2 linked regions of the Homo sapiens genome follow. The protein of the gene in region 2 purifies or fractionates together with the protein of the main gene of each other region. This does not show direct contact. Each region holds a gene or a part of one and is shown on either strand. Other genes may lie near its edges. The genes, in order: SLC39A10 and IGDCC4.

The links.
Region 1: the proteins of IGDCC4 (region 2) and SLC39A10 purify together in Homo sapiens (affinity purification with mass spectrometry; 2 studies listed by BioGRID and IntAct, with this or other methods). This does not show direct contact.

What each region holds. Positions count from the first base shown.
Region 1 is NC_000002.12:195,658,588-195,674,398, reverse strand, and holds part of SLC39A10 (zinc transporter ZIP10 precursor), read right to left. Parts: intron 2,743-15,811; exon of another isoform or gene 2,679-2,742; intron 1-2,678. UniProt on the Homo sapiens protein: Zinc-influx transporter. When associated with SLC39A6, the heterodimer formed by SLC39A10 and SLC39A6 mediates cellular zinc uptake to trigger cells to undergo epithelial-to-mesenchymal transition (EMT).
Region 2 is NC_000015.10:65,414,613-65,430,687, reverse strand, and holds the start of IGDCC4 (immunoglobulin superfamily DCC subclass member 4 precursor), read left to right. Parts: upstream 1-7,740; 5' UTR 7,741-7,825; coding exon 7,826-7,895; intron 7,896-8,285; exon of another isoform or gene 8,286-8,633; coding exon of another isoform or gene 8,634-8,742; intron 8,743-11,118; exon of another isoform or gene 11,119-13,839; intron 13,840-14,837; exon of another isoform or gene 14,838-15,360; intron 15,361-16,075.

The sequences.
Region 1 (15,811 bases), on a different chromosome or scaffold from region 2:
AGGTGAGGCAGGAGAATCGCTTGGACTCAGGAGGCGGAGGTTGCAGTGAGCCGAGATCATGCCATTGCACTCCAGCCTGGGCAACGAGAACAAAACTCTGTCTCAAAAATAAAATAAAATAAGGAAAAGTGGTCAGCTGTGTAACCATTATGTTGCCTGCTACAACCTAAATGCTCATCATTAGAATAAATAAATATGGTATATTTATTTAAAGATTACACTGCAGTTATAAATGTGACTATGAAGGACTTTGTATTAACATGCAATAATCTCAGAAATATAATTTTTAAAATTGCAAAAAGATACATGCTGTATAATTTACAGACAATCTTAAAACATGCAGAATTACTTATTTGGGGGTATATATTCATGTAGCAAGAGAACATGGGATGATTACATTCTGGAGTCATTATCTTCTCAGAAAGGGAAGGAGGGAAATCAGCTGATAGAGGAAGTACACAGATTTAACTGCATTTGCAGTGTGTTATTTCTTTAAAAAAGGGAAAGGGATCTAATGCAATATGATAAAACATTTAATATTTGTTAAAGCAAGATAATGGGATTCAGGTGCTTGATTATTCTTCTGTGTACTTTTCTATAAATCTGAAAAGATACCACATAACCTGCATCAGTGGTTAATCAAACTGTGGTTGTGAGAGCAGCATAAGCTTGCTAGAAATCTGAAAGGCAAATTCCTGCATCCCACCCAGACCTACTATAACAGAAACATTAGGGATAGGACCCAGCAATGACTTATCCAGCCTTTCTAGTGAGTCTGATGCAAGCTACACAAAATTTGAGAGTGCCTATTTACACATATAAATTAGCAATGACTTATCCAGCCTTTCTAGTGAGTTTGATGCAAGCTAGACAACATTTGAGAGTGCCTATTTATACAAATAAATTACCAAACACTTCCATTTCTCTAAAATGATACTTTGGGCTGGGCACTGTGGCTCACGCCTGCAATTCCAACACTTTGGGAGGCAGAGGTTGGCGGATCTTGAGCGCAAGTTCAAGACCAGCCTGAGCAACATGGCAGAACCCCATCTCTACAAAAAAAATACAAAAAAAATTAGTTGGGCATGGTGGCGTGTCAGAAGCCAAGGTAGGAGGATCATCTGAGCTTGGGTGGTCAAGGCTGCAGTGAGCCCTGATCTTGCCACTGCACTCCAGCCTGGGCAATAAGAGACATTGTCTCAAAATAAATTAATAAATAATAGTTTAGTCAACTGAATGTTATGATCTATCTGAATAAATTAAGTTGAATTATCATATATGGCATATATAGGTTAAGCATTTTTTAAAATAGCCTATAAAACAATTCCAAAGCAGCATTAAGTTTGAGATGTTTTTTAATCTCACAGTCTCATGGATAAAGTCACCATTTAAACGGTGTATCAATTTTACTCGTACACTAATGAAGATAAAAAGGCGTGGGTGATTAAGACCACTGTTAAGCAAAGGAAGATACATATTCCTTTAGCTCCCTGTTACACTCCCTGCAGTTACCTTGATTTTCCACTAGAAGATGCTAATTAAAGGTGTGAGTGTTGCTTCATTCAGCTGATATGTAAATACCATGAGGTTTCTTTAATGCATGTTATCTCACTGTCAAATGAATAGGTACCAGAGGTGGAAACAGGACATTCATATATATTGATCAGACATCATCAAATGAATGACTCCACGAAACACAAAAGCTGTAGATGGTTTACACAAGCTTTAAAACGTCATTTGTCTCTACTTTTTAAATACATCATACTCTATTATGGAAAAGATTTTAAGTATCTTGAGTACTCTAATCACTTACATTTAAGAGAATATAGGAATACAATGATACAAGCAACGTTATGAGGTAATACTAAACCTGTGCTTTTTTTTATTTATTAAAGTAAATCATTCACTAACTTTGCAACTTTAGTTTAGAACTACTATAGCAGATGTATGCTTTCAGAATCATTTAGGCCAGGTATGGTGGATCATGCCTGTAATCCTGGCACTTTAGTAGGAGGCCAAGGCAGGAGGATGGTTGAGCCCAGGAGTTTGAGGCCAGCCTAGGCAACATACTGAGAGCTTATCTCTACAAAAAAAGTAAAAAATTAGCTGGTGTGGTGGTGTATGCCTGTACTCCCAGCTACTTAACAGGCTAAGGTGGGAGGATTGATTGAACCCAGGAGGGCCAGGCTGTAGTGAGCCAAGATCGTGCTGTGCTGTGCACTCCAGCCTGGGTGACAGAGCAAGACCCTGTCTCAAAAGAAAAAAAAAATCATTTAGATGAAATATGCATTTTGTTATCACAGGCTAAGCAGCTATTGATTGCAAAGAGACCCCTCTCAAAAGGCAGTGGTTTAAGAAATGGGCAAGTTTTTGTCTCTCTCAATAACAGTTGAAGATGACTACTCCATATTAAATCACTTGGACATTAAAAAAAAAAAAGATGACCGCTCCGGGTCTGAGTGCAGCTCCGCTCCAGTCATTCAGAGACATAACATTCTTACATAGTTGATATTCCAGCCAACAGGGAAAGAGAAAGAATGGAAGTCCAGGTTCAGAAGTTTCTTCTTCAGTATCAAGGGAAGTAGAAGTTGCAGGCATCACTTCTCATCACATTCCATTGGCAAGGGGTTAGTCACATGATCTCAATTGGCTAGGAGGCCAGGGTCTCACCAACTTACAGAGTTTCCCAAGCATTCCAGTAGATGTTAACAATCTTTTCCATCGACAGCACAAAGAGGATCTCTGAGATGGAGACAGGAATGGGGGAAATGGTAGAAGCCCATATACCACTCAACCCTAAAAACTGACATTTATAGGACACAGCTTTGCCCAAGCCAAAATATTCTATTATGTCTCTTGTGTTTTGGAGTTTTCCAAGTTTTATGCATTAAGAATATGTTAGTTTTATAATTGATAATATTTTTTCAGTTCAGCTGAGTTACATCTACTGAAGAGTTCTGCTAGGTGCTGTCAACATCAATGGATGAGGCTACTGACAAGAAATGGGAAAAGGGATTCCGGTAAATAACTAGCAGTGCCACAACAAATTTATTTTCATCTTTTGCTGTTGATTTCCAATACATAACCACAGTTAAAAGCCTAAGTATTCTATCACTGTATAATTTCTGCATTAAGAGTGGGGCTAATTTACAGTTAGGAACTTAATCATTGTGCTAATTATTATACTATTTTGAATGCAAATATTTTGCTTTGGATGCAAAGAAAAAATGAAGTTCACTAATATTCTCTTGTATTTAAGACTAAAACCAGAACTAAATATGTAGTGAAGTGATTATACTTTGGTGTGGGGAGTGACTGGGCAGAATCATGAGAGGAATTCTGGGTTCCTATTAATGTCCTATTTCCTTACCTGGGTGCTGGGTACATGGTTGCACTTCACTTCATGAAAACTGCTTGAATTTTACACTTAACATTTGAGTACTTTTCTGTAGCTGTGTTATATTTCATCCAAAACTTAATTTTTATTCCCCACATGAAGTTTATTCCAACCTTCAATTAGTAAAATCAGTAACACATAATTTCTAGAAACACATCCATACTTAATAATACGCAAAGGGAAATGTGCTTTTTTTAACTTATTTTGAAATAATTTAAGATTCACAAGAAGTTGTAAAATTAGTTCAGAGTTTCCATGTACTCTTTCCCCAACTTTTCCCAATAACATCTAACATAACTGTAGTACATGTTCAAAACCAAGAAACTGACATCGATACTATTAACTACGAACCTTATTCAAATTTCATCAGGTTTTACACACACTCTAAAAAATATTGTAATAGAAAATCAATTTTCTAACCAGAAAAAAATGGCATTTTTGTAATAAAAAGATATTGCTTAACAAAATACATGGTTATACTTAAGAGAAAGGTTAACTAGATCCTTAAATGAAAGGAATTAGGGTGTGTGCTTCAGCAGCACATACACCAAGATTGAAAAAATACAGAGAAGATTGGCATAGCCCCTGCACAAAGATAACATGCAAATTTGTGAAATGGTCTATATTGTTGAATGTTGTCACCACAAAAAAACATGGTATGTGAGATAATGTATTTGTTAGCTCAATTTAGACATTCCACAATGTATACATGTCTCAAAATACATGTTGTACATAATAAATATATACTATTTTTGTCAAAAAAAAAAAAAGGAATTAGGGTTGATATTCTCCATAGCAATTTCTCCTGTAAAAGCTTACAAAAAACTTTTTTATTTTATTTTTGGAGACAGAATCTTGCTCTGTCACCAGGCTGGAGTGCAGTGGCATGATCTCCGCTCACTGCAACCTCCAGCTCCAGGGTTCAAGCGATTCTCCTGCCTCAGCCTCCCGAGTAGCTGGGACTACAGGCACACACCACCACACCCAGCTAATTTTTGCATTTTTAGTAGAGACAGGATTTCTCCATGTTGGCCAGGATGGTCTTGATCTCCTGAACTTGTTATCCACCCGCCTTGGCCTCCCAAAGTGGTGGGATTACAGGTGTGAGTCACAGCGCCCAGCTCAAAAACCTTTTTTAAAGACATTTATTCATTTTTATTTTTCATATAGAGATGAGCTCTCACTATGTTGCCCATGCTGGTCTCAAACTCCTGGGCTCAAGGGATCCTCCCCACCTCAGCCTCCCAAGCTGCTGGGATTACAGGTGTAAGCCATCGTGCCCAGCCTACAAAAACCTTAACTATAGGCTTTGGATTGTAGTTTTGAAATGTGTAAAATGCCAAGCTACAAATTTTAAAAATTTTAAATAAAATTAAACACCTAAATAACAAGTTCAGTAGGAATATATACAAATGGTTAACATGACAAATCTTCCTACAGATATTTTGTCTTAGATTGTTTTTTATTTCATATAGATGAACATAATAAAAATGTAGAATGTTTGAGATTTTAAAAATCCTCAGGTGTATTTAGCTAAATAATGTTATGTACAAGGAATCTAAGACCCAGAAAAGGTATCTAACGTGATTAAGCTGTTATTTCAAGTCTGTGGCATTTCTCTGACTTGAAAGACAGGGGCTCTTTAGTCTACTACAGTAGCATATTTGTGTATCTTGAAACCAGAACACTGTGAGATCTTTATTAAAGTCATCTAAAATATACTACAAAGACTTTTTTTAAGGGAAAAGAAATTGTCTCCTAATACTACTTACTCAATAGAAAAAACCAAGACATTGTGAATAAATTTAGATTACTTAACAAAATGACTGTCTGACATAGTAAGAAAAATAGCAGATAAATACTAAAATAATCCTAGTTCCAACTGCTGGAGAGGCCAATCAACTTAGTAATTTTTTTTTTTTTTTTTCTGAGAGGGAGTCACCCTGTTGCCCAGGCTGGAGCACAGTGGCACGATCTCGGCTCACTGCAACCTTTGCCTCCCAGGTTCAAGGGATTATCCTGCCTCAGCCTCCTGAGTAGCTGGGATTACAGGCGCCTGCCTGGCTAATTTTTGTATTTTTAGTAGAGACAGGGTTTCACTATGTTGGCCAGGTTGGTCTTGAACTCCTGACCTCAGGTAATCTACCCGCCTCAGCCTCCCAAAGTGCTGGGATGTGACCCAAAGTGCTGGGTGCGAGCGACAGTACCCGGCCCGATCAATTTAGTACTTATTGCCTGTGTGTAATCTACTTAACTCATTTCACTAAAACCAAAACCAACAACCAAAAAACAAACAAACAACAACAACAACAAAAACCTCTTTTTACTCTAGGGAGTATTTTTTTAAAGGAAAATGAAGACCAAATAAAAGAATGAGAAGTTATTATCTGTATCGCAATTCTTTCTTTCATACCCATGTGTGTATGCACATGTGCACATGCACACAAACACACAAAATATGCTAATAATGATGGGGAAAGATACTATAAGTTGCTTAGCAAGGTTTTAAAGCAAGCTTTTTCAGTGTTCCAGATTGCTATTCTGAAGGTAAATAAGGTAGAAACCAAAAGATTAATCACTAAAACCCTCATCCTGGATAATATACCATGTTTTAAGTAAACTTAATGTGAAAATCTATTCAATAAATGTATATACAGTTTCCTAATTTCATAAAGGACTTCATTTTTTAAAAGTTTCATTACAGGACTACTTTAAATGGTTGAAATCAGTTTTATAGCCTCAATCATATAAACACAGCTGGTATCTATATGACTGAATGGCTTTATCAAACTTTATCTTGACAGCAATGTAGGTAGTCAAATATCAATTTAGTTTCCTTCTGTGATTCAGTAATGGCACACACAGAGTAACAGAGAAGCAGTGAGGCTGTGTGCATAGTGAAGATAGATTAGCCTAGGAGTCAAAGATGTTAGAGATCTGACTCTGCCATTTATTAGCTATGAGTCCTTGAGCAAGTCCCTTAACCACTTTAAGTCTTATTACTACTTATAAAGTGGGACTGTTAATTTCTGTTCTATTTTATGGTAACTATAAGAACAAAATAAAATTACGTACATATTTTTGTAAAATATTTGTTAATTTTCCTACATTATTTGCAATATTTAAATGTTATTTAAGTGCAAGCTATTAATAATATAAATTGAGTTCTGTCCCTACTTCTCGTATATCCATTAAATGTGGTATTTTGTATACAGTACAGAACCAGGAATCAGAAACCTCTGTCTCTAGTTCATCCCGGTTGTGCCACTGTTTTCTCTCTGCAAAACAGGGAAAATAATACCTACACTTATCCACCAAATAAACCAATGTATACGAAACTGCTTTGTAAAGCAATTAAATATATTAACCTAAGGTATTACCATTATTAGATGTAGTATTATGTATCTTTCACTTAAATTACAAAAAGTATGGTGGAGGGGGAGGAGTCTCTCTGTTGTGACTCTTTTGAAAGAATGCTAACAAAATATTACAAGAGCACATGCATCGTTAGCACATCCAAGACCTGCTCTAGATTGCAGGAGGCACCCAATTCACTAGTATCTGAGCAGAAGTTGGAAAGACTCACTACACCTTACCAGTTTCACTGACATTAGAATATTCTTCAAGGGATAAAAAGTATTTTAGTAATGAGTTCTCAGCAGGGACCACAAAATCCTCTTACAGCTTCATGGTTTGCTTTTTCATCCCCCTACTTCACCAGCTATCTAATCTACTGGAAATCATATTCACAGTTTGGAATGCCACTGCAACTCTTCCAATAAATAAATAAAAGCACAGTTCAGGCAACCCAATCTTTCCACTGAGATTCATTCATGTAAAAAGTTAAGTGCATGCTAATTAAGCTTGGGCATTAACTCAGTTCTCCTGTTTCACTAACTTGAGAGAGAATATAAACATTTATACCTTGATTTAAAGTATCAAATCAATCAACAACACATCATATCTATCTTTATTGTATTCTATACATTCATGTACAAACCTACATTTTCTCATCAAATGTCAAAACAATTACCTGCATTTCTGCTTTTCAGCCTTTCATTACAGGGAACCTGGAACCATATTGGAGAAAGCTACCTGTAATATTGCTACCTCTGTTCTGCTATTTGTGAATACAAACATCTGAGATTAGTAAATGCAGTCGTTGGGATGTCTTTTGAAGCTACTAAAATGTTTATGATTTTAGTTACATGCATTATGAAGCAGACTTACAGTGCTAACCAGCCAGATGCAGTGGCTCACACCTGTAATCCCAGCACTTTGGGAGACCAAAGCAGGCATATGGCTTGAGCCCAGGAATTTGAGAGCATCCTGAGCAACATGGCCAAACCCCATCTCTACAGAAAATGTTTTAAAAATTAGCCAGGTGTGGTAGCCCATGCCTGTAGTCCCAGCTACCTGGGAGGCTCAGGTGGGAGGATTACTTGAGCCCGGGAGGTCAAGGCTGCAGTGAGCTGTGATCGTACCACTATACTCCAGCCTGGCAACAGCTTATTGTTCTCTTTCCACTCATCACTGACAGCTGTCTTTATTCTAAAAATAGCTACTGCTGCACTACCTCAAATCTTTATTATTCCATGCATTTTCACCCTTCCCTTTTTCAGTGTCTTGTCACTGTTATACATCCTTGATTTTATACCAGCTTGCCATTGTAAAAACTGCCAGCTAAAATGATCCTTCTTTTCCATGACGTCATGGGAAAAAAATAATCAAAAAATCTCCAAGTCAATCTTTGTATAACATTGACTTTTTTTATGTTTCAGACAACACAGAGGCTACTTATTCCCCAACATGGGAGCTTTCTGTCCAATTAATTTTTTAAAACTACATAAAATTCTTGAACATAGAGTCTTGACCACATTCCCCTTTCTTATATAGCTACATTCAGAAACACAGAGCTGGGGTCTTTTAATATATGCATATTAAATAAAAGGACAAAAAAATCAAGCTAATTATTACCAGAAAAAACAAAGTTGTGCAGGAAAGTAGTCATTTATTACAATGGCACATTGTATAAAATAATATTTATAGCATAAAAATGTAACCCCAATTACTGTTCTAAACCAAAATTACAATGAAAATTGTACGGAGAAACTGGAGTACAGGAAATAGGAAGGTATGCACAGAAGTGAAAGAGCACTAAAATCATTCTTCATTAAATAGATAATGGTTAGAACTGAAAATCAGCTGCAAGTAATGAACATGTTATCTGGAGACATGGTAATGAATAGCAAAATAATCAACTAAAGGAATTAAGGGGTTCCTTATCTCTCTAGGCAGAATATGAAAGGAACAGACAGGGGACTGATTTTTCCCCCCAAGAAACTTCACACAACTATTTGATTCTTTAAACTATATTCATGTATAACTTTGAAAAAAACCTAAAAGTTGGCAATTATAAATTAAATTTTAGTTGACAAACCAATAAAATAATGTCACATGTGGAAGAAAATGAATTCTAGCTTTAAGATTTTCACAAGCATTTGTCTGTGGGTTTTTCAAGTATTTATTTTTTGAGGCAGGTTTCCACTGTTGCCCAGGCTGTAGTGCAGTGGTGCAATGATAGCTCACTGAAGTCTCAAATTCCTGGGCTGAAGCCATCCTCCTACATAGCTGGGACTACAGGTGCGCAGCACCACACCCAGCTAATTTTATTTATTCATTTTTTTGACAGAGTCTCGCTCTGTCACCCAGGCTGGAGTGCAATGGCGCAATCTCTGCTCGCTGCAACCTCCATCTCCCAGGTTCAAGCAATTCTCCTGCCTCAGCATCCCAAGTAGCTGGGATTACAGGCACCTGCTACCACACCCAGCTAATTTTTGTATTTTTAATAGAGACGCCATGTTGGCCAGGCTAGTCTCAAACTCCTGACCTCAGGTGATCCAGCCCCCCTCAGCCTCCCAAAGCGCTGGGATTACAGGCGTGAGCCACCGTGCCCGACCTCACACTGGGCTAAATTTTTTGTCGAGATGGTGGTTTCCCTATGTTGCCCAGGATGGTCTCAAACTCTTGGCCTTAAGTAATCCTCCCACCCCGGCTTCCCAAAGTGCTGGGATTACAGGTGTGAGCCACTGCACCCAGCCTGTTTGCAGTCTGAAACACAATATGCAAACATTTTAATTCCAATTTGTGCTATTATCTTTGATTACTTGCTTCGAATGAATTCCAAGATGAGGGGAAAAACTATAAAAACTTTAACACTTTTCAGGTTTTGTCATATACTTACTTTCCAAATTGATTTCTAGAGAAATTAAGCTTGGTTATACTGCCACCAGCAGTATGATCATAGCACTCTCATTCACATTATTATAAATTTTTAAATAAATAAAAGGTCTTACTTTATTTTTAATTCATATTTTTAAAGTTATTCCTGATGTCTCAATATTTTTTCCAACATATATGAGCTTTTACATAACATGATTCAGTCACATTTTCTGCAAAAACCCTGCAGTTCTGTTCCTTTTTATTTTGATCATGTTTTCCCTTTCATGTATAGATGTTTTCATGTACATGCAATGAAACTTATTAAGGTTTCTGCAATTTCTTCTATGACTGCTGCTAAATTTTAAAAGTTTTTTCTCCCCATATTTTAGTGTATATTTTCTTATTTTTTTTTAAAAGAAAAGCTATAATTAAAAATAACTCCTAAAAAACTAAAACCCCTAACATCTATTTCTTTTTTAGGAAAAAGAAAAATGTCAGTTGCACTAACATCCAACACTTTCACACACATATCAGTTAACTAAAAAACCTTAAGTACTTGTGTTTACGCAAAAATCTTCACAGAAAAAGATTTAAGAATTTGTTTTAGAAATTATATATTCCATGAAATTATATTTACAGTGAATTTAAAGAACTTTTTTCTTAATATATTTCAGTGATTTAACTTTAGCATACCTTTCTGATTTTCAATTTTTAACTGGCATGATTATTTGCTTGAAAATAAATTCTATATGTACACTGTATGTGCTTTCATAAGATGTTATATACATTCAATTATTCACTTTATTTGGAAAAAACGGGAGAGAAGGAGGAGGGAAAGGGCTGAAAAACTAGTTGTTGGGCACCATGCTCAGTACCTGGATGACAGGATCATTCATGCCCCAAACTTCAGCATCACACAATATAACCCAGGTAACAAACCTGTACATGTACCCCCTGAATCTAAAATAAAAGTTGAAAAAAAAAAAAAGAAAAAAACTATAGACTATCCTAATTTAAAACCCAAATCTTTTTTCTGTTTTAATATACAATTTACTTTTCTCTTATTTCTTTTTTTTTCATAACTTCTATATTCTTGAAACACCATAAAATCAAAATCTTAAAAACAGTATATTCCAAACATTAAAAAATTATGAAAATATGATATGCTTTTCTAAAAAAGGTCCATGGGAATAGAAAACATGATCTCACTGCCTTATAATGTATATATACACAGAATACGTTATGTGTATATTATACTATCTTATTATTACGTTTTCTTACATTGTTTTACTGATCTCATTTTATAATGTAGTAACACACCATGTATTGTTTCATTTATATTGATAAAGTATTTAAATAAATCTTTCCCTAGCCCCTTTCATCAAGAAGCTATGTTCCTCTATAACACAGTGCAAAGTATATTTCTTCACATGCAAGCAAAATAATGTAAGGAGTCATCTTCAGTAGAAGTGCACTGAGTTAATATACCAAAATATTTGTTTAAAGGCCTGTAAGCATGCAGTTTTGAATTGCTTTATGAGGGGAGTGAGAAGATAGGAGGGAAAGGGGAAGGGAAAGAAGACATGAGACATAGGCGGCATAAAAATATGATCCATTTCCTGCTCTGAGAGAGTTACAAGGAAGACACAATCAGCTTTTCAATTAGAAAAGGTAAACTGTGAGAGAGCTACATAAGTAGCTACAAACAGTGTGACAGTTCGGTGGTAACCAACAGTTGAAGGCCAAGGGCTTCACATTCCTTTTCCGACTCCAAGCATAATAAAGCATAATTCCCTCTGCAGAGGAAAAATGGAAAGCGGAAAGAGACAAAAAGCTTCTCTACTATGTAGGTAAAGAACACCTGCAAATTCACATTACCTATGAATTGATCATTTGACTGAACATTTTTCTACTAAAGTATTTTACCGCAAGAGCAGCTATAGACAATACACACATCAATAAGCAAGTTTTGTTCCAACAATTTACAGAAGCAGGGATATTTGGCCCATAGTTTGCTGATCCAAATTTAATTTACAGATTTTTTTTTAAAGTGCCAATCCAGCAGACAATTATAGGGGAAACCACTATTTTAAAACTCAAAAATTCAAATATATAAAAGTGAATTTAGAAAAAAGCCTAGAGGTGGGAAGGCAAGGAATATCTGAAATTGTTTCTTTTTATTTATAGATATTAAAGTAATAGCATAGGCTGGGCACGGTGGCTCATGCCTGTAATCCCAGCACTTCAAGAGGCCAAGGCAGGTAGCTCACTTGAGTTCGAGTTTGAGACCAGCCTGGGCAACATGGTGAAACTCTTGTCTCTACAATAAAAAATACAAAACATTAGCTAGGCATGGTGGCACACGCTCCCGTATTCCCAGCTACTAGGAAGGATGAGGTAAGGGGATGACCCAAGCCCAGGAGGTCAGGGCTGCAGTGAGCCCTGATCTCACCACTGCACTCCAGCCTGGGGAACAGAGATACTGTCTCACAAAAAAAAAAAAAAGGGAACACCACAGTAGGATACATATCTCTGATGTTCTTACTACACTAAAAGTGACTGAGGTTTTTCTTCTTCCTTTATTCAATGAAAATCTAAAACCTAAAGTGATCACTGATTAAATCTTCATTATAGAGGATTAAAATTAACCTCCTTCGTAGTTCACAGTTCTTATAACAATACTTCTCGTCCTATGGAAGTACATAATGATATTAATAAGGATACATCCTACAACATTCTTGCTTTTCTAATCCCTAAAAATCTTAACGGGATGGGCTGTCCCCCAAAGTCGAGTATATAAAAGGGTAAAATTGATTAGAAATATTAATACAAGGATAAGTATTATCTGATACCTCCCTTTCAGCAGTATCTAAAAATGAGTAATTATAAAACATGATTATAAAAGGTTATGACAAAATATTTACTTTTAGATTGTGAAAATAAACACTACCTGAGCAAGATTTTAGATTTTGTCCTTATACTTGTACAAGCCTGCAAACCTGTATCACCAGTAGCATCCTATTCTAACATCTTTTAACATAAAAATATCTACCATTAAAAATCTATTAAATAACCACTCCTTGTATCTGGCAATCCAAAAAAACCCTTACGTTCTGATAGGAAAACAGTATTCGACACAGAATTACTGATGTGATACAATGAATTGTGTCCTGTTTTAACATGTCTGAACATTGTATGTGGTCTCCTAAGCAGTTAATTTGGAAATAATTTAGTATTACTGGCTGGGCACGGTGGCTCATGCCTGTAATCCCAGCACTTTGGGAGGCCAAGATGGGAGGATTGCCTGAGCCCAAGAGTTTGTGACCAGCCTGGACAACATGGCAAGATCCTTGTCTCTATATAAATAAATACATACTATTATTTAAAACTGTAATTTTGATTCTATATTTCTTCATACCTACTATACTTTTAAGCATTCCACTAATTTTTTATTGAGAATATGTTTGGATATTTTAGAAAAAGCTAAAAGTTATCCTGTGGCCTATCCATAGAACTTATAAGGGATAATAAAAAGAAAAAAAAGAGTTTGAAATACTGATATTGCAATAATCTAAATAAAACCTAAAACCTTAAGAGTTTGCATTGACTACAGAAAATCCTTTCTGTAAAGTAGATTTTGTAGAATGTTATCTGTTCATTGCCTTTGTGTAGTGGTATATTGTGTTATAATATCTGTGTGTAAACTGAATACTTGGGTTTCATTATAGTATTCACATAAAATAATATTAATGATATAAAAAAGGAAATCTTGTGGCTATGAAGAGGTCCTTGAAACTATTTTTTAAGAATCATTCTATAAAAGTCATAGAAAATAAATTCGAATTTTAAAAAAAAGCTCACAATGTAAATTTAACACTTTCAAACTTTATTATCAGTACAGTCAAAGCAATACAAAGTTATATGGAACTAAATTAATCTAGAAAGTAGATTTTTATATCATTCAAGATAAGGAGAAGCCCAGATTAAATATATAAAATTGTTGTTATTTACACAGCTAACTTCCCGCTTTGAAAACAATCCCATACGTAAATTTCTTTTTTGGAGCAAGGTAACTTGGTGATTGTTCTATCTCTACCCAAAATTCACCCCTATTTGGAAAACTGGGGGCTAAAAGCAATCAGAATTCACCAGTTCAAAAACACTTACGTCCATCTTATTAGCAACACTAACTACCCAGAGGAAACTAAAATAGACCAGATTTACAGCAGTAAGTAAATCTAATTGTAATTTAAACATTACCTTATTTTAGCAAAAGGTGAAGGGAATCAAACGCTAGGGGGCAGCATCAAACTGTTGTGGGTTAGGCTGGGCAGCCTTGCAAACTTTAAGCTTTAGGGTATTTTTAATGAGAATTACACTTACATAAAAGATGAATTATAAAACTTCCGTTATAAAGGAAAAAACTAGTTGTTTTGATTCCCTACATTTCTCTTCCATTTCCCATTGTGTACTTTCTTTTGCAACTATGACTGGTATCACTTTAAAATGCACTAGTAATAATGTCCTTCTGATACTAAACTCATGGCATTTCCAATACTGAGGTAAGCACTATATAAACACAAGCTGACATTTTTAGCCTAACCATAATGGTTAAGTTTTGATTCACTCAATTAGCATTTTAAACTTAATTAAAGAGCTTGACAAGCTCTGCATATTCATGTGTCATAAGCAGTATGTGACAAAAAAAACTGTGCAGTATGTACCCCCTCACGAAATTTAGTTTGGCAGGGAAAACAAGATGCACATGTTATTATAAATTAGAAAATGGAAGAGAAGTAGAAATAAATCCATGAGTATTATATATAAGTAACAGAACAAAAACAACAGGATAATGTATCCCCCCCAAAGGCCCAGTAGAGACCATCAAAGCTCATTCTGGGGGTAGTCAAGGAGGGAGTGGAGGGAGAAAAAGAACGCAGACCTTCAACCACTAATGAAAGAACTGAAACATCTGTATGTAGAAAAAAGGTAAAATCAACTCACTATCATCTTCAGCCTTTTGGTTATCTCATTTAATGGTCACAGTTAAGTCCGTGAGTAGGGTTTTTGTACTTGAAGTTCAAATAGAAGATTAAGATAAGCAACTTCCTCAAGGTAAGCAAACTAATTAATAGATCAAGGTTTTGAACTTTTAAAATTTCACTCCAAAGCCCTAAATTTTTTCCAGTATTGGTCAACACTGAGGGTAGAAGGGTTGGGTGAACAGAATATTAACAAGGTAAATTTCTCTAATCAGAAGGAAATGATCATCCCAGATGCTGAATTTTCCTTGCTATAATACTACATCCTATCTTCTCCAAAAATCACTTTTGAAAAAGGCACACCCCCTAGATTAGTACTTGCATACGACACTTGAGGCCTACTCAAAGTACTTCAAATCAGGTGCTCAAAAAAAGGGAAGGACCGTGTTAGCTTTTAAGCAGTTAGAATTTAAATTGGTAACAGTAAGAACTAGTATAGGTTATCATGCAATCTATTATTGATGTCATTTCCTATGAGGTCTTCCCCAACCACTTTTTTTAAAGTAGCACCAAAGTCATTCTTGCACAGGGGTTCTTATCCAGGCGTCTATGTACGGAACGCAGAATGTTTGTAAATATGGACAGGTAAAAAAAGAAAAAGATTTATCTTAACCTCTGACATTTACTTATCTCTTCAGTTACGAATGCAGGCAAAAATTACAGCGATGTGAAATACCTGATAGCAATTTTAGATTAAATTTAAGCCAAATTCTTTAAAGATCATTTACAGTCCTCACTAATGCTTTACTAAAATATAGATGTCATATTTAATATCTTCATTATTTCATAACTGGTTTCTGTTGCAATTCTATGTATTTCATACATTTAAAACCATCATTCTGTGGTTCATCACATAAAAAAGTTAAAAATCCATACCAGCACATCATTGTTTTATTTTCTTCACAGCACTTATCACTGATATTATATGTTTCCAGTAAGGAGCCACTGGAGTAACCAGTGTCTGCAGAATGTGCGTTGTCTGGCATGGATCCAAGATCTAGAAAAAGTAACTGACTCATATTAAGGTACTCAAATATTTGTACAATAGAGTCCTAATACAAAACAATACACAGGAGTCTTGACTTGAGGCTTTCAATTGCATACTAAGTTAGAAGGAACTAAGTTCTACATCTCCAGCTTTTCCATTACT
Region 2 (16,075 bases):
CCAGCCACTTTGGAAAGCCTAGGCAGGCAGATCACCTTGAGGTCAGGAGTTCCCTGGCCAACATGGCAGAACCCCATCTCTACTAAAGAATACAAAAATTGGCCAGGCACGGTGGCTCATGCCTGTAATCCCAGCACTTTGGGAGGCCGAGGGGGGTGGATCACTTGAGGTCAGGAGTTTGAGACCAGCTTGGCCAACATGGTAAAACCTCGTCTCTACTAAAAATACAAAAATTAGCCAGGTATGGTAGCCTCCCAGCTACTTGTGAGGGTGAGGCAGGAGAATCGCTTGAACCCGGGAAGCAGAGGTTGCAGTGAGCTGAGATCGCGCCACTGCACTCCAGCCTGGTGAATACAAAAATTAATCAGGCATGGTGGCAGGCGCTTGTAGTCCCAGCTACTTGGGAGGCTGAAACACGAGCGAGAATCGCTTGAACCCGGGAGGCAGAGGTTGCAGTGAGCCACTGCACTCCAGCCTGCGTGACAGAGCAAGACTCTGTCTCAAAAAAAAAAGAGAGACAAAAAACAAAAAGAAAATAAACGGGCCGGGCGCGGTGGCTCACGCCTGTAATCCCAGCACTTTGGGAGGCCGAGGCGGGCGGATCACGAGGTCACGAGATCGAGACCACGGTGAAACCCCGTCTCTACTAAAAATACAAAAAATTAGCCAGGCGCAGTGGCGGGCGCCTGTAGTCCCTGCTACTTGGGAGGCTGAGGCAGGAGAATGGCTTGAACCCGGAAGGCGGAGCTTGCAGTGAGCGGAGATCGAGCCACAGCACTCCCGCCTGGGCGACAGAACGAGACTCCGTCTCAAAAAAAAAAAAAAAAAAAAAAAAAAAAGAAACGAAATGAAACGAGAAAAACAAAAAAGAAACAGCATTTCTAGCACTTTAATGCTGTCACTTGATGCCATACAGGGCCCTCACACTCAACTTGTTTAAAAGGCCAATTCACTTCTCTCTCCTCGGTTCTGCTCCTCCCCCATGTTCCCTTCATTTAGTAGTATCCCATCCACCTAGTCAAACCTACAAGAATTCTAGCCCTGTCCCATTCTCTTAACCACTACATTGACCTGTTCCCAAGATGTCACTTCTGTCCTAGAACTGTCTCAGGGAAGTTAAGAAAAAAAATAACTTTAAAACAACATGTTAGGCCGGGCGCGGTGGCTCACGCCTGTAATCCCAGCACTTTGGGAGGCCGAGGCGGGTGGATCATGAGGTCAGGAGATCGAGACCATCCTGGCTAACAAGGTGAAACCCCGTCTCTACTAAAAATACAAAAAATTAGCCGGGCGCGGTGGCGGGCGCCTGTAATCCCAGCTACTCGGGAGGCTGAGGCAGGAGAATGGCGTGAACCCGGGAAGCGGAGCTTGCAGTGAGCCGAGATTGCGCCACTGCAGTCCGCAGTCCGGCCTGGGCGACAGAGCGAGACTCCGTCTCAAAAAAAAAAAAAAAAACAAAACAAAACAAAAAAAAAACAACATGTTAATTCAAGGTAATTTTAATATATTTAAATTAAATTGATTATTTTAAAAACCCTGTTCCTCATTTAATAAATGATGCATGCCTATTTTAAAGTAATTAGGGGCCACGCACAGTGGTTCATGCCTGTAATCCCAGCACTTTGGGAGGCCAAAGCGGGCAGATCGCTTTGAGCCCAGGAGTTCAAGACAAGCTTAGGCAACATAGTGAGACCCTGCCTCTACAAAAAATTCAAAAGTTAGCTGGGTGCATGCCTGTGGTTCCAGCTACTAGGGAGGCTGAGACGGGAGGATCACCTAAGCCTGGGAGGTTGAGGCTGCAGTGAACCAAGATCGCGCCATTGCACTCCAGCCTGGGCAACAGAGCAAGACCCTGTCTCAAAAAAGAAAGGAAGAGAAGAAAAAGAAAAAGAAAAAGAAAAAGAAAGCATCATTTGTCAAAAAACAAATAAATATATATATAATTTATATATATATTTGTGGTTTGAGGACCAAATATACAACGAAATATAATAGTGTGGGCCAGGTGCCATGGCTCTCGCCTGTAATCCCAGCACTTTGGGAGGCTGAGGTGGGCGAATCACAAGGTCAGGAGTTCGAGACCAGCCTGGCCAATGTAGTGAAACCCCATCTCTACTAAAAATACAAAAATTAGCCGGGCGTGATGGCATGCACCTGTAGTCCAAGCTACTTGGGAGGCTGAGGCAAGAGAATCACTTGAACCTGGGAGGCGGAGGTTGTGGTGAGCCCAGATCACTCCAGTGCACTCCAGCCTGGGCAACAGAGCAAGACTCCATCTCAAAAAAAAAAAAAAAAAAAAAAGGAAAAGAAAAAGAAAAACAAATTAATAATAGTGTGTTATAGGATCAAAAACAGACAAAAATTGCTTTTATAATATGGTTGCCTTTTGTGCTAAATATTTTAAATTTTCTGAGTTTTATTTCTGAGATGTGAAATAAAAGATTTTAGGATTTATTGGGAAGTATTCCCCACAAAAAAAATATATTGTGGATATGGATGATTTGTCTTTCCAGTAAACAACAAGCCAAATTAGATTCAGTTGTCCTTAGATTTTGTTTTTTTTTAAACATCGTTTTTTAGGCCAGGTACAGTGGCACACTCCTGTAATCCTAGCACTTTGGGAGGCTGAGGCAGGCAGACTGCTGCTGAGCTCAGGAGTTTGGGACCAGCCTGGACAATCTGACGAAACCCCACCTCTACAAAAAAATATCAAAATTAGCCAGGTGTGGTAGCACCTACCACTGCTTGGGGGCTGCTGAGGTGGGAGGATTGCTGGAGCCCAGGAGGTTGAGGCTGCGGTGAGCTGTGATCATGCCACTACACTTCAGTCTGGGAAACAGAGCAAGACCCTGTCTCAAACAAACTAACGAAAAATAAATTTGGTTTTTGACCTGTCAGTGACTGAGTTTTGTTTTATTTGTTTGTTTATTTTTTCTGAGACAGGGTCTCATTCTGTTACCCAGGCTGGAGTGCAGTAGTGAAATCTTGACTCATTGCAACCTCTGCCTCCCAGGCTCAAGCAATCCTCCCACCTCAGCCTCCCAAGTAGCTGGGACTACAGGCACACACCACCACACCCAGCTAATTTTTTTGTATTTTTGTAGAGACGGGGTTTCACCATTTTGCCCAAGCTGGTCTTGAACTCCTGATTTCAAGAGATCTGCCTGCCTTGGCCTCCCAAAGGGCTGGGATTACAGGCGTGAGCCACCATACCCGGCCTGTCATATATTTTTTATGGTCCCACATGGCTATAAATTAAACAGTGTATAAATGACCAAGTATGAAAATAAGTTAAAGCTGTTTAATGATAAAAACCATGACAGTGAACCATGTTTATCTGAGCATGTTCCTCGACCCTCCACTAACCACCACCCTGGAACACCCCATACACCCTTGGAAGCTTTCCATGTTACCAGCTGAAAGAGGAAAATAATAGAATATTTTATTATTGATTTTTTTTTTTTGAGACAGAGTTTAGCTCTTGTTACCCAGGCTGGAGTGCAATAGTGCCATCTTGGCTCACTGCAACCTCTGCCTCCCGGGTTCAAGCGATTCTCCTGTCTCAGCCTCCCGAGTAGCTGGGATTACAGGCATGTGCCACCACGCCTGGCTAATTTTTGTATTTTTAGTAGAGACGGGGTTTCATCATATTGGTCAGGCTGGTGTCGAACTCCTGACCTCAGGTGATCCGCTCGCCTCAGCCTTCCAAAGTGCTGGGATTACAGGCATGTGCCAGCCACCATGCCCAGCCTGATTGATTTTTAAAAACACATTAAAACAGGTGCTATATCCACTTTTAATGTTGTGAACTCTTTGGAACTGGTTAGAAATGTGCATCATACCCCAACCCTTTTGTCTCAGTGATGAAACTGAGGCCCAGAGAGAGGATGGAAGTTGCCCAAGGTCATGCAGCAAGTCTGTAACCAAGGCAGGACAAGAACTATGGTTCTTACTCCTGCTGGGCTTGGCTGGCCTGAACCTGTAACTCTATCCCTCCTCCTCTCACATTTACTCCCTACCCAGAGCCCATGTAGTGAGATATGAATATAGATAAATTAATTAGATTTTTGTATGTGGCTGGTAGAATTAGTCTCTCTATATGGCAACACCTTGTTCATTCATTCAATTGACAAATCAATTGCTTTCTAGATAACATATGAGGCCAGTCCATCTGGCCCTGGCCTCCCTGTTTGGCTTCATGTCCTGCCCCTGCTCCCCTGCCCAGTCCACACCTCCTGCACTCTGCTTACATTGTCTTTCCTGTAAGACTTCTCTGCTTCCCCCAGGTCTGGCCCGAGTGCCCCTCTTCCCTGTACCCCATCACAGACTGTATCACACTTGTCCATCTCCCTCAGTAGCCTAAGCACCATTCAGGCAAGATTCCTCTTGTTCGCCAGTCTGCTCCCAGTGCCCAGAGCAGGGCCTGACCCATAACAGGTACCCCTTGAATCAATGATTGGATATGCCATTTCCAGGCAGGAAGAGCACACTTCCCTGTGCTCTCACAGCCCAGGGCCTCTGCAGAGGGAGTTTCTTGACCACCCTGTCAGTTCTAGCCTTTTAAATTGTCCAGACCCATGTCAAACATCCACAGGTCTGGCCCGAGTGCTCCTCCTCCCTGTACCCCATCACAGACCGTATCACACTTGTCCAATCAATAGTTCTGTGAAGCCTTCCTTCTCAACCTCCATGTCCCCCCACCCCACACACGGTAAATCCCTCCTCCTTTTGTTCCATCCTCCCTGCCACCCCATGCCACTTAGGACACTACTATCCTTGTGGGCAGGGACTTGTATTTTTTATCCAGGTCCCCTGGCACCTACACAGTGTGAGATACTGATTTAGGTGCTTAGCATTCAGCAGTGAACCTAGCAAACAAAAATCCCTGTCCTCATGAAGCACACATTGTGATTGTGAGGGGTGGGGGAACAGATCGAAAATAAGTAAAATGTAGAGCATATTAGTAAGTTACAAGTGTTGGCCGGGCGCAGTGGCTCATGCCTGTAATCCCAGCACTTTGGAAGGCCGAGGCAGGTGGATCACCTGAGGTCAGGAGTTCAAGACTAGCTTGGCCAACATGGTGAAACCCCGTCTCTACTAAAAATACAAAAAATTAGTCGGGCATGGTGGCAGGCACCTGTAGTCACAGCTACTCGGGAGGCTGAGGCAGGAGAATCTCTTGAAACCAGGAGGCGGAGGTTGCACTGCGCTGAGATCGTGTCACTGCACTCCAGCCTGGGCGACAGAGCAAGACTCTATCTCAAAAAAAAAAAGAAAGAAAAAAAGAAAGTGACAAGTGTTGGCCAGGCGTGCTGGCTCACGCCTGTAATCCCAACACTTTGGGATCCAAGGCAGGTGGATCACTTGAGGTCAGGAGTTCGAGACCAGCCTGACCAAATGATGAAACCCCGTCTCTATTAAAAGTACAAAAAGTTAGCTGGGCATGTAGTCCTAGCTACTTGAGAGGCTGAGACCCAAGAATCACTTGAACCCAGGAGGCGGAGGTTGCAGTGAGCCACTGCCCTCCAGCCTGGGGGACAGAGTAAGACTCTGTCTCAAAAAAAAAAAAAAAAGAAGAGAAAAAGAAAGAAAATAAAATAAAAAAGAAAGTGACAGTTAAAGACAAGAATAGACAGCAGGGAAGGAGGATAGGAAGAGTAGGGGGTGAGGCTGTGAGAAAGCCTTTATGGTATCCAGTATGAGGGAACAGATCTCTAGACTTGCACTGGCCGGACAAAGGTCTTGAGGCTGGAGGGGAGGAGGCTGCCCGCGATCAAGTTACAGCAAGGAGGATGGTGTGGCTGGAGAGGTGGTGAGCACAGGGGGTGGTGTCGAAGGGGAGGTCAGAGAGGTAGAGCAAGCCTACAGATCAGATAGGCCTTGTGGGTCACAATAAGGACTTTGGCTTTTGCTCTGACATAGGAGCCGCTGGTGGGTTTCTAGCAGAGAAGTGGCATGATCTCATTTTAACAGGAGCACTCTGGCTGCTGTATTGAGAAAACACTCAAGGAGGACAAGGACAGAAAAAGATCAGTGAGGAGTTTGCTGTGACAATCCAGGTGAGAGGCGACGGGTCTTGGACCAAGGCCACAGTGAGAAAGTGGAGGGTGAAGCATCTGAACATGAAGAGTAGGAGATGACTCTACATTTTTTTTTAATAGAAATGGGGGTCTCGCTATGCTGGCCAGGTTGGTCTTGAACTCCTGGCCTCAAGCGATCCTCCCACCTCGGCCTCCCAAAGTGCTGGGATTACAGGCGTAAGCCACCAAGCCTGGCCTCTACATTTTTGACCTGGGCAACAGGAAAGGAACTGAGATGAGGAAGACTGTGGGAGGAGAAAGATTGATAGAAAAGATCAGGATGAGTTTGTCTACTAGACAGCTAAAGGAACTGGGGCCTGGATGGCTGGATACAGAAGTCCAGGGTTCAGGAAAGATGGTCTAGGCTGAAAGTATACATTTGGGCATCATTAGCATAAAGATGCTCTTTAAAGCCTTGAGGACCAGATGAGATCACTAAGGGAAGCAAGTGTTTCAAGGAAGAGGGAGTGATTCACTAAGTCAAATGCTGCTGATAGGGCAAGTGAAGATGGGGCGTGGCAATGAATGAATAAACGCCAGGCCTGTTAGATATGCAAAGCGCCAGTGATTATTGAGGGTTAACTGACAACAGACAGGTGTAGAGACAAGATGGCTCTAAGTCACAGGAACACTTAGAGACACAGGGAAGGGAAGAACTATGGCATCTTGGAGTTGGAAAGGACCTTAACTAGGTCATTGAATCTGTACTCTTTTCCCCACCCTAGCCTGACAATTGAACCCTTGGCTGTAGAACAAGAAATATTTGCGGGATACTGAGGCAAACAGTCTGGCTAGGTAGGTTAGAGAAAGTACCGTTGAAGAATGAGAAAAAGGGTACTTCAGTAAATGCTGGACAGCAGAGGCAGGGTGAGGGAGTGGAGATGACCTTCCGAAGTCAGAAAACCAAGGTTCAGGTCCTGTATCTGCTGCTCCCTAGCCTCCTGTCCTTGGGCAAGTCACTTCACCTTCTCCAGCCTCAGTTTCCCCATGCGGCGACATCTGAATATGGTAGTGCTTGAAGGTAGTGTAAAAGTGTCCTGCCTGTGTTAGTTACTGCCAGAGCAAGGGAAGGAGGCCAAGAGAAGCCCTTGGTTTGGGATGGCAGATAGGACTATCAAGATCTCCGCAGGTGGGCTGGCGCAACGTGTGGAGAAGCGAACCAGCATTCAGGCCAGGACCTGGGCTGGAATGGACTGGGCTCGGGTGGCAAGGGGGCCATCTGGACAAAGACCGTGGCCCTGAATCTGCCTCCCCTGAGCCTGGAACGGAGGTGGAGACCCCGAGGCAGCAACAGGGAGAAGAAATAGAGACGCTGAGGCAGAGAGACCAGAAGACTCAGAGACGGGGAGACTAAGAGACAGACCCAGCAACAGGCGGCCTCACGGGGGCCCGCGGCGACCCGGAGAGGGCGAGGCACCGGGACACAGACCCGGGCCGAGAGGAGCCCCCGCGAGGCGCAGGGCCGTGGCGCGCGGGCGCAGGGTCCCCGGCGGGGCCAGGGTGGCCACACTCGCCGGGCGCCCCCTCCCGGGCCGCTCGCCCAAGATGGCGATGGAGGGGCGGGTGAGGCGGCAGCGGCCCTGGCCCCCGCGCCGGCCCCAGCTCGGGCCCGGGCCCCCGAGGCCGCGCCCCCGCCCGCGGCGCCGCGCCTCCCCGGGCCACTGACGCCCGGCGCGCTCTCCCCCCGCGGCGGCGGCCGAAGCACGGGGAGGCGGCGGCGGCGGCGGCGGCCCGAGCCCAGCCCCATGGCGCGGGGGGACGCCGGCCGCGGCCGCGGGCTCCTCGCGTTGACCTTCTGCCTGTTGGCCGCGCGCGGTAAGGGCGGGCGCCCGGAGAGGCAGGAGCGACTGCGGAGTGCTGGTGCGCCCGCGCCCTGGTCTGCATCGGGCTGCGGGGCTGGCTCAAGCCGGAGTCCCGAGCAAGTGCGGGGGCTGCGCGTCCAGGTGCCCGCGATGCCTGCGCGGGGGTCTGCGAGCTGCGGCCGGGGGGCGTTTGTGGGGCGTGCTTGTCCGCAGTGGGTGTGTGCCTTTGGTTCGCAGAGTCTGGAGTCGTGTGTGTGTGTGTGTGTGTGTGTGTGTGTGTGTGTGTTGGGAGTGCTCCTGTCGTGTCCGCAGTGCGTGCCATGGTCGCGGCGTGGCATCGGCGGGGCGGGTAGCTGCGGTGTCGGTGGCTTTCGCGGGGCGGGCTCTGCCTTGCCTGCGCGTGTCTTGGGTTGAGAGTGTGTGTAAAAGAGGAGGGAACTGGGGTTGTGTCTGCACCTCCATTTGGGTCGGGTGCGTGTGCAATTGTGTTTATGGGGCTGAGCTAATATTTGGCCTTGGCATTTGGGAAGTGTCCTTGCCCATAGTGGGGGACAGAGCGATGGATCCCGTTTGACTGGGGGTGGTGGTGATAAAACAACACTCAACTTTGCCCAGTGGGTGTGGTCCCTGGGGCCGGTTAGAGAGGGGTAGAGGGAGGTGTTGCTCCCCAAAACCTGTGGCCAGCAGTGGACTGGGGGAGGGGGCAGGAAACCATTTGCTTTCGTGGACATGTCCAGCGCTTGTTCTCACGATGGGACGCGTGTCACCCCGGCCCCACCCCCCAGGGACCGACCAGGGAAGCGTGGACGAGGTCAGCAGGGCCTCATCCAGTCCGCAGCCCAGTGCGGAGTGGGTACGGGGTAAGTCAGAGTTGTCCAAGCTGGAGAAAGGGCTGGGGAGGGGATAGCGAAGTCCCCAAGGGTGTGTGTCTAGGGCTGCGGCTTCCACCCACAGCTCTGTCGCTTCCTGTCCGGTGTGCGTTTGGGGGCGGCTCATGGGGAGTGTAGGTGGCAGGGCTGGGAGGGGGATGGGCTGGCCGCTTTGTTCGCCTAGTTCTTGCCTTCCCCGCGGAGGGGGGAGCTGAGGATGTGTCCGGGGAGAGTCGGGGAGGGACTTGGAGGTGGGGGTGGGGAGGGGGATTTCTCTCCAGCTGCTGCGGCTTTCCAGAGAGACTCAGCCAGGCCACGTGGGAGGGAGGCGGGGGGAAGGAGCCTCCGCCTGGCCAGCCCCAGGCCCATCTCCAGGAAAACCAAACAGCGGGTGGGAAAGTGCCGGGAACTCCTCGGACCCCTTCTGTCCCTACAAAGACACGCCCCTTTCCAGCCCCAACAGCGGATTAAGCTGGAGGCCGCCGCGAGGCTGGGTCTCGGCTGCTGGGCCAGAGGAGCTGGAGGCCCTGGCTTGTCAGGTGAAAGGGGCGGGGAAGTGTCAGAGAGAGGTCTGTCTTCCCAGAGCTCAGGGGATTAAGGAATAGTTCCCCTGCCCCACCTTCCGCTATTCCTAGGGCTCCTGGAACGAGCTCAGGGTCACCCAGCTAAACGGCATCAGGGCTGGGAACCGCACCGGCGCATTATTCAATACCTTTAGGACCTGCCGCGAGGGACCCAGCTTCCCTGGCCTCTCCCTGCTCCCGAACGCACAAAGCAGGCGAGGGACCGAGTTGCGGCGTCTCTTGGTTGCAGTGTGAGTGGCTACAACAGCTTGCCCTGGTCCTCCAAATCTCAGCAGGCCGGGGGACACTCCAGTCGAGTCATGACTAGCCACCCTGATCTGTACTGAGGTCATTCATTCGTTCAACAAATATTTATGGAGCACCTTTTATAGGCTAGCTTGTGCCTAGTGCCTAGAATATAGTAAATAAGGAGGCAGACCTGATCCCTGGTGCAAAGCTTTCAGTCTGGTGGAGGGGGAAACTGACAAGTCCCCTGAAGTGCTGGGGAAGACGCAGGAAGGAGGGGCTCCTACACCGATCTGGGAAGGTCAGCAAAAGCTTCCTGAAGAAAGTGATGAGTAGTAGAGCTCGACATGGAGTTAGCCCTGTAGAAGGAGAATGATGATGGGGACAGTTTTCCAGAGAACAGCATGTGCAAAGTTCAGAGGTGATTTAGTTGAGATCATTGGATTAAACTAAATCTAGCTGGAGTTTAGGGACAAGGGGTGGATGGGGGGCAGGTGAGGGAAGCATGGAAAGGGGTCAGGGAGTATCAAGACAGGAGGCTGAAGAGGGGAGCTAGATCCAGCTCACAAAGGGCTTTACAGGGCCCACCAAGGTTTCTGGCCTGAGAGTCCCCATGAGCCCTTGACAGGATTTAAAATCAGCTTTGCATCATCTCATTCCAGCCAGTGTGGAGGATGGATTGGGTGGGGCTGGAGGCAGGAAGCTCCAGCTCCTTCGAGGCTGTTGTAGCAATCCAGAAGAGAGGATGGTGGCAGCTAGCATAGTGGCAGTTGGGGTTGGGCTGGAGTGGCTGCATTCCAGAGATTTTCAGGAAATAGAATCAGTAGAACTTGAGGATAGATTGAATTTGTAGGGGGCGAGAGAGAGGAAAGTAAGAAATAGGCCGGGTGCGGTGGCTCACGCCTGTAATCCCAGCACTTTGGGAGGCCAAGGCGGGCGGATCACGTGAAGTCAGGAGTTCAACACCAGCCTGGCCAACATGGTGAAACCCCATCTCTACTAAAAATACAAAAGTTGGCCAGGTGTGGTGGTGCATGCCTGTAATCCCAGCTACTCGGGAGTCTGAGACTCGAGAATCGTTTGAACCTGGGAGGTGAAGGTTGCAGTGAGCTGAGATCACGCCACTGCACTCCAGCCTGGGCGACAAAGTGAGACTCTGTCTCAAAAAAACAAACACAACAACAACAAAAAAACATGAGGCAGAATGAAGGGCTGGTATTGGGGTTAGGATAATGCCTGTGCCTGCCCATCTCCTCCCAACACTGTTCTTGAGTCAGGGACTGGGACCCCTTTGTGAACAGGTGGCGAGAAGCCGAGCTCTGTTCTTATCACACGCACAAAGGTGGGGCTCTCGGCTCTCCCTTCTTCCCAAGTCAGAATTTGGAGGGTAGGGAACCTAGAGGTCAGTAATGGGAGGCCTCTAAGAACTTGAGAGCTTTCTCCTCACCTGGGAACTCCTCACCTCCCCCATCCCTTTCTCAGCCCAGAGGCTCAGAGGCCAATCTCAGTCATTTGGGGTGGGCCTCTTTCCCCATCTTGGAAGTTAGGAATCAGGTCAAACAGTTGGAGTTTCTTTTAATAATGAATCTTATCCAGAAGATACCTAAACCTTCATTGATCCTCTATGTGCTTTCATGACTCAATTAAACACACATTTACATGTTAATTAGCATTTCTTTTCTCCTAAACATATCTCTTTCAAGTGAAGCAATTTCACAATTAGCGCATCATTGAATGTCAGCACTGAGAGGAACTTAGAAATAATTTCAGGCCAGGCTCATACCTGTAATCCCAGCACTTTGTGTGGCTGAGGCAGGAGGATCGCTTGAGCTGAGTTTGAGACCAGACTGGGCAACATATTGAGACCTCATTTCTACGAAAAATTAAAAAAAAAAAAAAAAAAAGCATGGCGGTCATGGTGGTGTTCCCTGTTGTCCTTGCTGCTCAGGAGGCCGAAGTGGGAGGATTGCTTGAGCCCAGGAGTTCAAGACTGTGGTAAGCTATGATGGCTCGCACCACTGTTCTCCACCCTGGGCAACAGAGTGAGACTCTGTCTCAAAAGAAGAAAGAGAAAGAAAAGAAGAAACAATTTTAGCATGAACCTGTTTTTACAGATGAGAAAACTGAGTGACTTCCCAAAGTTACATGATTAGGGACTGAAATGGGGCCACCCTTTCTAGGGATACCCAAGTTCACTCTCTTTGCACTCCTCTATACCTTCTGAGACGTTATCAGCTTCATGCTCTCCCTCTCAAGTGGGTCTATCTGGGCTCTGGAATCCACCCTCCTCCACTTAACCCCCCCCACCTCTTTCTATTCTCTCCCATGGTACAGCAACCAGACTTGATACGGAATTCCAGATGCAGAGCAGATGTCATTACCAGGCAGGCTTGGGGGCAGGGGGAGGAGTAAGCATGGCTCTGAGGGAGAGGACCCCAGCCTGGTCAGAGGTGGGTGACAGGAGCTAGGGGGCCAGGGAAGGAAAACCAGAGAGTATGTTTTGGAGCCTGACATGCAGAGAAATCAAACCCTGTTACCTGTGCCAACTGGGCTGCCAGCTACTACTGCCTCACTGCTGAGGCTGAGTGAGGTATCCTTTGGATTTGGGGGCCCATGGGGTCCTTGGGATCAGGGAAGCAAGGACCAATAAGCTGTCCTTCAGGTGCAGACCCAAGACTCCTGGATGGTTCTATAAGGGACTTATGACCTTGTTAGATAGTTTGCAGGACAAAGCTCTGGCCAGTGAGCAGAAAGTACTGGGAGAGACAGGTGGGCACAAGAGAAATAAATTTTTTAACCATATGAGCCATACAGCAAGAGAACAGGCAAGGTAGTGATCTCCCCAGCCTGGTCATGTTTAAGTACAGGGTTTCTTTCAGTGTGGACTTCAGCTGTTCTATCTCTGCTTTTCAAGCATGTCATGTCTACTGGGTGCCACGCAGTGTGCTAGGCAGTTTCCACATGTCTTCCTGACATCCTTTCTTGCCCTGAAGGGAGTTACTGTTGTTTTTACAGATAAGGAAACTGATGCTTGGAAAAGCATAGGGGGCTCTATGCCTTATCTTTTTGAGGATGTCTTCATGGGTTCACTCATCCATTCAAGAAATGTTTATTGAGCACCTACTGTGTGTTAGGCACTGTTCCAGGTACCGAGGATTTAGAAAGCTAAGACATAACCCCAAGACTTTGGTGCCTAGTTGAGGAGAAAGGCAAGTCAAAAACCTAGAGTGAAGGCTGGGCATGGTGGCTCACTCCTGTAATCCCAGCACTTTGGGAGGCCAAGGTGGGCGGATCACTTGAGGTCAGGAGTTCGAGACCACCCTGACCAACATGGTGAAATCCCGTCCTACCAAAAAATACAAAAACTAGCCAGGCATGGTGGCGCACACCTGTAGTCCCAGCTACTTAAGAGGCTGAAGCAGGAGAATCACTTGAACCTGGGTGGCAGAGGTTGCAGTGAGCCGAGATCATGCCACTGCACTCCAACCTGGGTGACAGAGTGAGACTCCGTCTCCCCCCGCAAAAAAAATCTGGAGTGATAACTGCGATGATGGGGGTGCCAGCGTTCTACGGGGCAGAAAAAGGAGAGGTGTCTAAATCAACCAGGGACATCACAGCTGTTCTAGGGAGTGAGAGCAGCACCAGCAATGCGTGGAACAAGATGTGTTTTCAGAGAATTGGCCATGGTTTGCTGTGTGTGGAGGGGTAGAGGGTCTCAGGGGAGCGGGAGATAGGCAGGTCAAGCTGAGCCTGGCTTTGCTGTTGGATAGGCTGAGGCTGAGACTCTCCCCTCAGGATTGCAGATGAAGGGAGAGCTGAGGCCTTCCTTGTGTCCCAGGCAACTGTCCCAACTCTCCTTCCAGCTGTTGGGGGGAGGGGCTCAGCATGTGGTAAGGGAGGTGGCCAAGGTTGGGGGCAGGAAGGAAGGTTTCTGGAAGGAACCGACTTGTGTTCTCTGGGAAAGGAGAATGGTGATGGTGTCGTGGAGAATTTCTCCTGGGCTGCAAACAAGTAGTAAATCTGTTGGGCCCTGAAATTCAGAAGTGAGGAGGCACTGATGTGATGTTTGTGGCAAGTTCCTGGCTTAATAAAGGAGCCATCTTGGCCTCGTTGTTCCCCTCCCCCAGCTACACGCCCCTTCCCTAAGAATTCACTGAAAAATGGAACTCACGCCAGGCCTCCACTAATCCCACGAAACAGCATTGAGCTGGCCCTGGAGCTCAGCAGCGAATCTCCTTTCTGTCTGGGTTCTAATTGGCCTCATAAAATCCAGTTTATCCTGTAAGTGGGTAAAATAATCTGTCAGAAAAAGGAGATTGAGAGGTGGCCCTAGGGTTCCCAAATGCAGCAGCTCTGTGTCTCTGACAGGGTCTCACTGAGGAGATTGAGGAGAAGGGATTATGGGAGGGGTGGCCCCCTCAAGACAGAAAGCCAGCGGGCAGCAAGTGTCCACTGGGCACCTGCAATGTGTCCACCCCGGCACTGAGAGGGAGGGCTAAAAATGTTGGGGGTCAGCCATGACAGTGGGCTGGGGGTGGCAAGTAAGCGCTGGCCATGAAGCTCCTGGACAAATAAGGTCCCCTCCCCAGAGCATCGCTTTTATGAAAAGATTTGGTGGTATGGGAGCCACACTTATATTAAAACAAATATTGCTGTGTTATGGAGCAGAATGCAAAATGTGCTAGAGGTTTGGCCGGGCGCGGTGGCTCATGCCTGTAATCCCAGCACTTTGGAAGGCCGAGGCGGGCGGATCACGAAGTCAGGAGATTGAGACCATCCTGGCTAACACGGTGAAACCCCGTCTCTACTAAAAATACAAAAAATTAGCTGGGTATGGTGGCGGGCGCCTGCAGTCCCAGCTACTCGGGAGGCTGAGGCAGGAGAATGTCTCGAACCCGGGAGGCGGAGCTTGCAGTGAGCCGAGATTGCGCCACTACACTCCAGCCTGGGTGACAGAGCGAGTCTCAAAAAAAAAAAAAAAAAAAAAAAAAGTCAAAACATTTTAGGCAGTCAGCGAGCCTCGTAAATATGTGTTCCTCTGCTGTTGAGAGAATTTGGGTGAAAACGTTTGAGAAGTTTGGAGACTTCTCATTTTAAAATTGGGGAAACTGAGGCTGAAAGGACAAAAGTAGCTCACACAAGGTCATGCAATGAATGACTGGACTTAGAACCCAGGACTCTGAGGCCAGGCTTGTCCCACCACACCCCCTTGTCTGTCTAGGCAAGAGTAAGGGACCTGCAAGTGGTTTTCAGTGTGAGACTTAGGAAAAACTTTACCTGGGGAAGGTAGGAGCAGCCTCACAGAAGGGCTGGCACGTGAGTCCCTAAGGATGCGCTTCCTGGGCACAGAAATCAGGTTGAGCACAGAGGCAGAGAGAACCCTCTTATTCAGGAGCAGTTGTCTCCTCAATGCTGGTTCATCCCCAAAAAGTCAAAGAAGGGCAGTTTTCCCAGACTGTCTTCCACAGAGATGAGACCCCTCCCCAGGCCTCAGTTTCCCCATCTGTGGAATGAGGATTCTCAGGCTTCACAGACGTTTCCACTAAAATGGGCTGTCTTGGGCTCCTGGCACAGCACTGCTGCTCTCTGAGGGGGACCCCGTCTTCTCTCTGTGTCTACGTTCCTGTTGCTTTCCCTGTTCCTGCCTTGCTGAGCTCCTCAGAGGTGGGGAAGCCAGACATCTGCTGATCCATGAATATTCAGGAAGGGAATCGGAGCCTCCTCTGGGCTCCCCAGCCAGCCGCCAGCCCCTCTGGCGGCCGTCCTGCCTGCCAGAGCCCAGGCTGCTGACATACCCAGCAGCTGCTCGGGCCCCAACTGTTCACATTGTTTGTTCAACGCAGCAGGGGATTTTCCAAGCCTGGGACATGCTTTAGGGGGCAGGGAGGCTGCCGGAGGGCTCAGGGATTTGTGTCCTTTGGGGGTTTTCTCCCCTGAAACCCAAACCTACTGCTTAGTGGCTGGAATGGGCATTTGGAAGCCACTGGACTGAGAGCCGGGCTTGCCTTCCTCCTACCCTGTACTTGAATCATGGCATCTAGGGCCTTAGAGATAGAAGGGACTGGATGATAAGAACAGCAAATAGCACTTGTACAGCCCTTTATAGTTACAAAGTGCCTTTAAAGAATAAGCTCCCCGCCGGGCATGGTAGCTCATGCCTGTAATTCCAGCACTTTGGATGTGCTCTTCCAGAGCACTGGATCTTCCAGAGCCAAGGCGTGATCTTCCAGAGCCAAGGCAGGCAGATCACTTGAGGTCAGCAGTTCAAGACCAGCCTGGCCAAAATGGTGAAACCCTGTCTCTACTAAGAATACAAAAATTAGTCAGGTGTGATGGCGCATGCCTGTAATCCCAGCTACATAGGAGGCTGAGGCTGGAGAATCATATGAACCCAGGAGGTGGAGGTTGCAGTGAGCTGAGATCATGTCACTGTACTCCAGCCTGGGCAACAGAGCACAACTGTCGCAAGAACAAACAAACAAAGAATAAGCTCCCATTCCTTGAGTGATGTCTAT